Linked DNA regions of Homo sapiens. The protein of the gene in region 1 purifies or fractionates together with the protein of each later gene. This does not show direct contact. Each region holds a gene or a part of one and is shown in the gene's direction. Other genes may lie near its edges. The genes, in order: TRAPPC10 and C9orf40.

Region 1 (3,817 bases):
CCCAGGGGCCGCAGTATACGCCCAAGAGCAGCGGGGGCAAAGGGCAAGGCATGCCGTCTTTCCAAAGCACGGAGTCACCAGACAAGTCCACGCCTGAAGACGAATGTTGTAATGTTCAGCTTTTGAAGAACCTGAGGAAGTGTCTTTCCCTTAACTCACACAGACGTTCACCATTCACGAAGGTGGCGCTTAGCTCAGCAGGAGCGCGCAGCACTGGTGGCACCTGTGCTATGTGCCGTGTTATCCCGCTCTTCCCTGGCGCTGGTGGCACCTGTGCTGTGTGCCGTGTTATCCCACTCTTCCCTGGCGCTGGCGGCACCTGTGCTGTGTGCCATGTTATCCCACTCTTCCCTGACACTGGCGGCACCTGTGCTATGTGCCGTGTTATCCTCTCTTCCCTGGCGCTGGCGGCACCTGTGCTGTGTGCCGTGTTATCCCACTCTTCTCTGGCGCTGGCGGCACCTGTGCTGTGTGCCGTGTTATCCTCTTTTCCCTGGCACTGGCGGCACCTGTGCTGTGTGCCGTGTTACCCCGCTCTTCCCTGGCGCTGGTGGCACCTGTGCTATGTGCCGTGTTATCCTCTCTTCCCTGGCGCTGGTGGCACCTGTGCTATGTGCCGTGTTATCCTCTCTTCCCTGGCGCTGGTGGCACCTGTGCTGTGTGCTGTGTTATCCTCTCTTCCCTGGCGCTGGTGGCACCTGTGCTATGTGCCGTGTTATCCTCTCTTCCCTGGCACTGGCGGCACGCACGCTGTGTGCTGGGGTATTCACCTCTTCCCTGTGGGGAATAAGGCTTGAGACTTGCTTCCTTCCTGCCCTTAAGGGATGTAATAGCTTTGTCCTCACTGTGCCCCTAAACTGATTTGGTTTTCAGTTACATATTCAGCCTCACATGGATTAAATGCTTAGATAATTCATTAACTATGGAGTAGTTACTGATTGGCTAATGTCATCTGGAAATACATGACTGAAAGCACTTTGTCAAAACCCTGTGCACATTGCAACATGCATGGCTCCGCGGCCCTGCGTGTATGGGAGCAGCAGGTGGGTCTGCTGCTTAGAGGACGGCTGTGCTCTTCCGCCGTTGAGGTGACTCTGGTGATGTGTGCATGTCTTGCCAGTTCTGCGTTCGTTTCTCTTGTCTGTATGCATAGCTTCCTGTTTCTCGTTGGTTTGTGTATGTGTTGGGTAAGGCTTTGCTTCCTGGATAATGAGTGGTTGAAGCCATAATAAAATGTCTAGGGCGTGGGCGGGCACTGCAGGTGAGTCTGGGCAGCAGTGGTGGTGGCTGTGCTGTCCGTCGGCGAGTGGTCTGAGAGTGTCTTTGTGCTTCCTCCTCAGGTGTCGATTGACTGCCCGTGGTCCATCTACTCCACAGTCATCGCACTGACCTTCAGCGTACCCTTCAGGACCACACACAGCCTCCTGTCCTCAGGAACACGGTAACGGAGGCGTAGCGTGCGGGCCCTGGCTTCTTTCCCCAGACTCTTCTAAGTGGAGGTTCCTAATGTTCAAAACTGGCCTTCGTGGTGACCAAGGATGTCTTCTTATGTGACCACAAGGCCATTGTTTGTGTCTTAAAATCCACAATTCCCTGGTGTCCTGTGACATCCAGTTCATATTCAGGTTTTCCCAACTGTCTGAAAATGACCTTTTATGGTTGCTTTGTGTGACTTGGGGTCCAAAATCTCCATCAGACCACTAGATCTCTGTTCATCCTTTCTTCCCTGTTTTCAAGCCATCGACTTGTTCACTTGCAGGCCAGGTTTCCTCTGGACGCCCGCCTTTCTGGATCTGGCTGGATTTGTTAACTAGTTCTCCTGTCCCTGTATTTCTTGTCAATTGCCTGCAACCTCTAGAACAGGAGCTTTTAAGCTCAGCATTAGTGACATTTTGGGCTAGATAACTCTGTTGTAGGGGCTTTCCTGTGTGCTGTAGGGTGTTGAGCAGCACCCCAGGCTCTCCCATGAGATGCCAGTAGCACTCCCCACCTGCAGGTGTGGCAGCCACAGATGTCTGTAGACACTGCCCAGTGTCCTCTGGGTGGGGCGGACGTGCCCCAGTGGAAAACAGCTGCCCTAAAGGCTTGAGTAGACTCCAGTTCTGCTTTGAGGCAGGCGGGGCTGTGTGCTTCCTGTTGACTGCACCGGGAGGCCCACGGTGTCCAGGTGTCCTACCTTAGTGACGGTGCTAGCGTTGATCAATGGGCTCGGGATGCTAGCCTGGCCTCTCACCACAACTTTTTATCCATTGATGATGTGTGGATAATTTGGAAACAAAAACGTCAGACCCATGTTTAGAATGGAACATTATACTAGCAGCTTTTTTCCCCTTCAAATCACAGCAAAGGGAACTGTAGATATTAATAGTTAAAAACATCAATAATCTCTAAAAGAACCTTATTAAAAAATTATTTTTCAGCCGGGCGTGGTGGCTCATGCCTGTAATCCCAGCACTTTGGGAGGCCGAGGCAGGCGGATCACGAGGTCGGGAGTTCAAGACCAGCCTGACCAACATAGTGAAACCCCGTCTCTACTAAAAATACAAAAATTAGCCGGGCATGGTGGCGGGCGCCTGTAATCCCAGCTACTCGGGAGGCTGAGGCAGGAGAATCACTTGAACCTGGGAGGCAGAGGTTGCAGTGAGCTGAGATCGTGCCATTGCACCCCAGCCTGGGCGACAAGAGCAAGACTCTGTCTCAAAAAATAGTAACTATTATTAATATTTTCAAAGTTTTGCATGTAATGGAAATGGATATAAGCCCCGCCTATCATCTCTCAATGGAGAGTCTTCACCTGTAATGAGGAGGGCTGCTGCTGTCTCCCCGTGGCTCCCCAAAGGCCAGTGAGGGTGACCAGCCATGATCACTTAATAAGGCTGGTCAGAAACTATATTCTTTCTTCCATTGCCTCACAGAACTTGCCTCTTTAAAAACTTTTTTTATTTATTTTTATTTGTTATTTTTTTGAGATGGAGTCTCGCCCTGTCACCAGGCTGGAGTGCAGTGGCGTGATCTCAGCTCACTGCAACCTCCACCTCCCAGGTTCAAGCAATGCTCGTGCCTCAGCCTCCCGAGCAGCTGGGATTACAGACACGTGCCACCACGTCTGGCTAATTTTTATATTTTTAGTAGAGATGGGGTTTCACCATGTTGGCCAGGATGGTCTCAATCTCCTGACCTCATAATCTGCCCACCTCGGCCTCCCAAAGTGCTGGGATTACAGGCGTGAGCCACCGTGCCCGGCCAAAAAGGTTTATTTTCTGGCACTTTTCGGTGTGAAATCTGAAGGGAAACTTATGCAACAACTTAGCTTACTTTGCTTTGTTGCTTTTTTGATTCCCCAGGCAGAGAGGGTCTCCTTAACAAAGCTAAGATATATTTAATAAAGTTCTTACATATCAAAATAATACTTTTTGTTTTTCCACTTTAGGAAATATGTTCAAGTTTGTGTCCAGAATTTGTCAGAACTTGACTTTCAGCTGTCAGATAGTTATCTTGTAGATACCGGTGATAGTACCGACCTGCAACTAGTACCACTGAACACGCAGTCCCAGCAGGTAAACATTGTGTAGACCTGAGCATAAACTTCTCAACAGAGAACCAGAGTGTACGGAAATGATGTAGTATGTGTTGCGACTGAGCCTTTAGATAGAACAGCTGCACTGCTGATGAGTAAAGGCTCCTGTGCAGCTCCTCCGGCTGCCCTGAGGCTGGATCGAGGCTTGCTCCTGAGTAAGCGGGTGGCTGGATGGATGAATTCTTCTTTTTAGAAGAATTAAATCTGAAACTGGTCCCACTCTATGCGTAGACGTGTGCA
Region 2 (4,147 bases), on another chromosome or scaffold:
TGGGATTACAGGCGTGAGCCACTGTCAGGCCCTCTTTTGAGGAAAGCCCAGTAACACTCCTATTCCTTCTTTTTGTTAGATTTGTTCTGGAGGCGCTTCTCTTTTACAATCATGCTCTCTCCAGCTTCTGTTTCTCCTTCCTGCCTCCAAAGACACAGGCTTTTTGTTTTAAGGATTTTATACCTGATTACCAAGGGAAAATTGAATATAACAAAAAGAAGTAAACAGTTCAATACAGTAAATGCCTGGTTTCTTTTGTGCTCAGAATAGGGCTTAAGTCCCAGCCCTCACCCTTGGGACTTCATTTAGGAAATACTACCTCAAATACCTTTTTTCTACATTGAGAATACAATCTAGGCAGGATAATGTTACGTCATTTCTGTCCCGGAACTTCAGGGTATTTCCTGTTTCAGATGTTTTTTGACTACAGAAATAAAATCAGGTATTCATTAAATATTCATGTATTTTTTTCATGTTAGTGTCACTATGTAGATTCACTGCTCTGTCAGTGTTAACTGTTAGTTTCTTGTTTATTTGTTTGTTTTTCATAAATTGAGATGGAGTCTTGCTTTGTTGCCAGGGCTGGTCTCAAACTCTGGGGCTCAAGCGATCCTTCTGCCTCCCAAAGTGCTGGGATTACAGGTGTAATCATGCCCAGCCAACTGTTAGATATTCTTAACAGAAAGTAAGCAGAAATGCTCTAAGGAGACAGTGATTAATGATTCATAGGCTTATTGGGATATAATACCTAGCAATATTGAGCAATTACTATGCCAAGCCTGAATTTTTACAACAGTCCTCCATTTTATCAATAAGGTCAAGATCAGAGTTAGTGGGCGGTGGAGTTATCTTGCAAACCCAGGTCTGTCTGGTGGCAAAGTTTGTGTGCCCTTAGTCACTATGTTTTACTAACATAATTAAAAGACCTTTTTTTGGTCCATGTTTATAAGTAGATAATTTGTACAGTAGATTTTCCAAAATATTAAAGTGAAATTTTTCTTAATATCTTTTGACTTATTGTGTGTTTATCCCAATATTAAGAAATTCCCCCAAAACTTAATTCTTTAAGGCTCAGCATAGAAGACAGTGAACTTCCTAATGAGACTTTCTTACAGACCTGTGCTGTCCAGCACAGTAGCCACTAGGTCATGTGGCTACTGAGCATTGATTTTTTTTTTATCTTTAATAAAATGATCAGTTTAACATTTTCTTGCTATTCGTCATGTTTATAACCTAATACTTTTTGGAAGATTTCAAAATATTTTGGCCTATGTAAAGTAAATCTCCTAAAATACCAGACCTTAAGAACAAGACCAAAAGTAAGTTATAAGGAGTGTGTCTGTGTTTGTATTTTTAAAATAAATTCTTCTTTTCCTTCTTGAAAGATAAAAAATTTTAAGACTTTTTAGATAATTTTCTTTAGGTGAAAAATGGGAGAAAAACTGTGGAAAGAGATGCTCTTGGAGGAAATTCCTTTAAATTTAACAAATACTTTCACAAATTGTAAATATTAAAATGCACAGATTTCATCGAGTACATGAAGTACTTAGATGAGACAAAATTTAAAATGTATATTTGTTAAAAATACAAAATAGAAGATTACAAAATCTTATATGAGTTTGCCTTTAAAACAAATTTGTTTTCTGAAAAAAACTTAATTTTTTCTAAGCTATTGATGCTCTTTGATCTCTCTTTTTTCTCTAAAGCACAATGAAGAATTTTGGCAGTATAATACCTTCCAGTACTGGAGGAATCCTTTGCCTCCTATTGATCTGGCAGACATTGAAGATTTAAGTGAAGACACCCTGACAGAAGCAACACTTCAGGGCAGGAATGAAGGGGCTGAGGTTGACATGGAGTCCTGATGTAAGGAGCCGAAGCAGTGGGATTGGCTGATTTGAGGAGATGTCTCTAAGTGAATTCTCGTATTCTTAAGGGAAAAGTTATTTTCCATACTTGAAGTTATATTTCCAAACCTGAGAAATGAAGAAAGATTGTTCTGACATTAAATACCTACAGTTACTACTGAACCTCTTAATAAGGATTTGTCAAGGATAGAGTACAGTTGTAGGGGAAGTATTTTATGTATGCATTCTTAGAGCAAAAAGTTTTGTTTAAATTCTAGAATTGAAGGTACTGATCTTATAAAAAGAAATTCTAGCAGTTTTAGAAATAGGTGGGAAAAACTCAAATATTCCTCCTATCTGCACCAAAAAGTTTATTTGTGGTATATAAAATGAATATTGTTTTATAATAACTTGTTAATAAAGTACTTTCTAATACATTCTATTGACTCTGTTAGTTGAACAAATAGCTGACTTGAACATCTATGCAAACTTAAGATGGGCGGGATTGTTGTAAAAGCTATTGTTTTAAAAGAGCTTTCTAAATGTAAAGTAGTGATAATTTCAATTTGGGTAGCGTGTTTGCAAAGCTTCCAATATTTGATGTTGGTTAAGCTCTACTATGGGCAACTGAAGATGGATAAAGAAAAATGAAAACTGAATCGGTGCCTGCTTCCCCCTGTTTTCCCAGGATTAGAGGAAAAAATTTATTGTATAATCAGCTTCTTGGTTTTGAATTGCTTCGAGGCATGGTTTTATTCCTTATTACTTTAGACCTGTAGTTTTCAACACTGACAGCACTTTAAAAATCTTTGCCTGGGCCTCACTCTTGAGAGATTCTCATTTAATAGTTCTGAGGTGGGTCTTGGATATAACTATTTTTTTAAACACCTGTCCTGTTTCCCTCCATTCCTCTCATGTGCAGACAGGGTTGAGAACCAGTAGACTAATGGTCGTTTTTCCTGTTTAAAGGAGATAACTAATTTGAGCTGAAGCAATGCTTCTTAATTAGCTTTGTTTTTGTTTTGCTCTGTTGGTGGCTTTGTTACAACTGAATTATTGTGTTATTACTATTTCATTGTTAAAGAAATAAAGTAAGCAATTTGTGATGTGAGTATCAGTGATTAAGTTAACTAACTTTTGTACTGCATCCAGAATGTTGGTTTTGCAATTGAGTAACTGGTTCTTGCTTGCATTTTTTGTTGTTGATGACATTAGATCCAAAATTCAAGACAAATGGTAAATGCCATTGAGAGGGAAAGAGAAAAACTTGATTTTTTTTGTGTAATGAAGGATTTAAGAATGGGTTGACATTAATAAGAATGCTTTAGAACAGAAGACAAACTGTATTGCATTGTGGTCAGACATGGTTCAAAGTCTTGTACTGCCACTTCCTACCTATGTATCTTTAAGCCAGTTATTTTTCATCTCCAAGCCTCAAATTTCTCACCTGTAAAATGAGAAATAATAAATAGTATCTACCTCAGAGAGACTGTTTATTGTCAAGCAATGTTATAAGTACTTTACTTGCATCATCTTGTTTAGTTCTCATAATAACCTTAAGGTAGGTTAAAAAAAATCATTAGAATAAACATGCTGCCTATAGTTAAAGTTTTAACTGCCTCTAGAAGTTTCAGGATAGAAATTGGAATTGAAACTTTCAGCTTATGATATTTTCAACTTACGATGGGTTTATCAGGACATAACCCCATGGTTAGTTAAATGTACTAAATTTATATCACTTTCACACTGTGGTAAAGCTGAAAAATCCTGTCAAACCATCAAGTCAGGGGCAGTCTATATATAGAAAACAGAAAGAGTTAAAATAATTCCGTCCTTTAAAAAAGTTGTTTACTAAGTAAACTTGAGGTAACAGCAAAATTTCATTGTGGATAAATTGAGGTAAAATGTGGGTTTTTAAATGTGTTATAACCCTTCACCCCAATTCCCTAATGTAACATCTTAAATTACCACAGTACACTTATGAAAATCAGGAAATTAACATTGATAAAATTCTCTTGTGTGATTTTGAGGACATGGAAAGAATGACTTCAGACAACTCTTAGAGGATATATGTCAAAAACCTAAAACAATTATAAAATGTATGGACTATTCGACTTTCACCATTGTCCTATTCTTTTTCTAGCCCAGCGTCAAATTCAGGTTCACATGTTATATTTAGTTATAATATCTCCTTAGTCGTCTTTAATCTAAAAACAGAATTTCTTTGCTTTTCATGACCTAGGTACCTTTTGAAGAGCACTGCTCAGGTATTTCATAGGATAGCCCTCGATTTTGGTTTG

Evidence for each region.
Region 2: the proteins of TRAPPC10 (region 1) and C9orf40 purify together in Homo sapiens (co-immunoprecipitation; one large-scale study listed by IntAct). This does not show direct contact.

Annotation. Positions count from the first base shown.
Region 1 is NC_000021.9:44,088,493-44,092,309, forward strand, and holds part of TRAPPC10 (trafficking protein particle complex subunit 10), read left to right. Parts: intron 1-1,340; coding exon 1,341-1,441; intron 1,442-3,430; coding exon 3,431-3,557; intron 3,558-3,817. UniProt on the Homo sapiens protein: Specific subunit of the TRAPP (transport protein particle) II complex, a highly conserved vesicle tethering complex that functions in late Golgi trafficking as a membrane tether.
Region 2 is NC_000009.12:74,945,766-74,949,912, reverse strand, and holds the end of C9orf40 (uncharacterized protein C9orf40), read left to right. Parts: intron 1-1,706; coding exon 1,707-1,865; 3' UTR 1,866-3,330; downstream 3,331-4,147.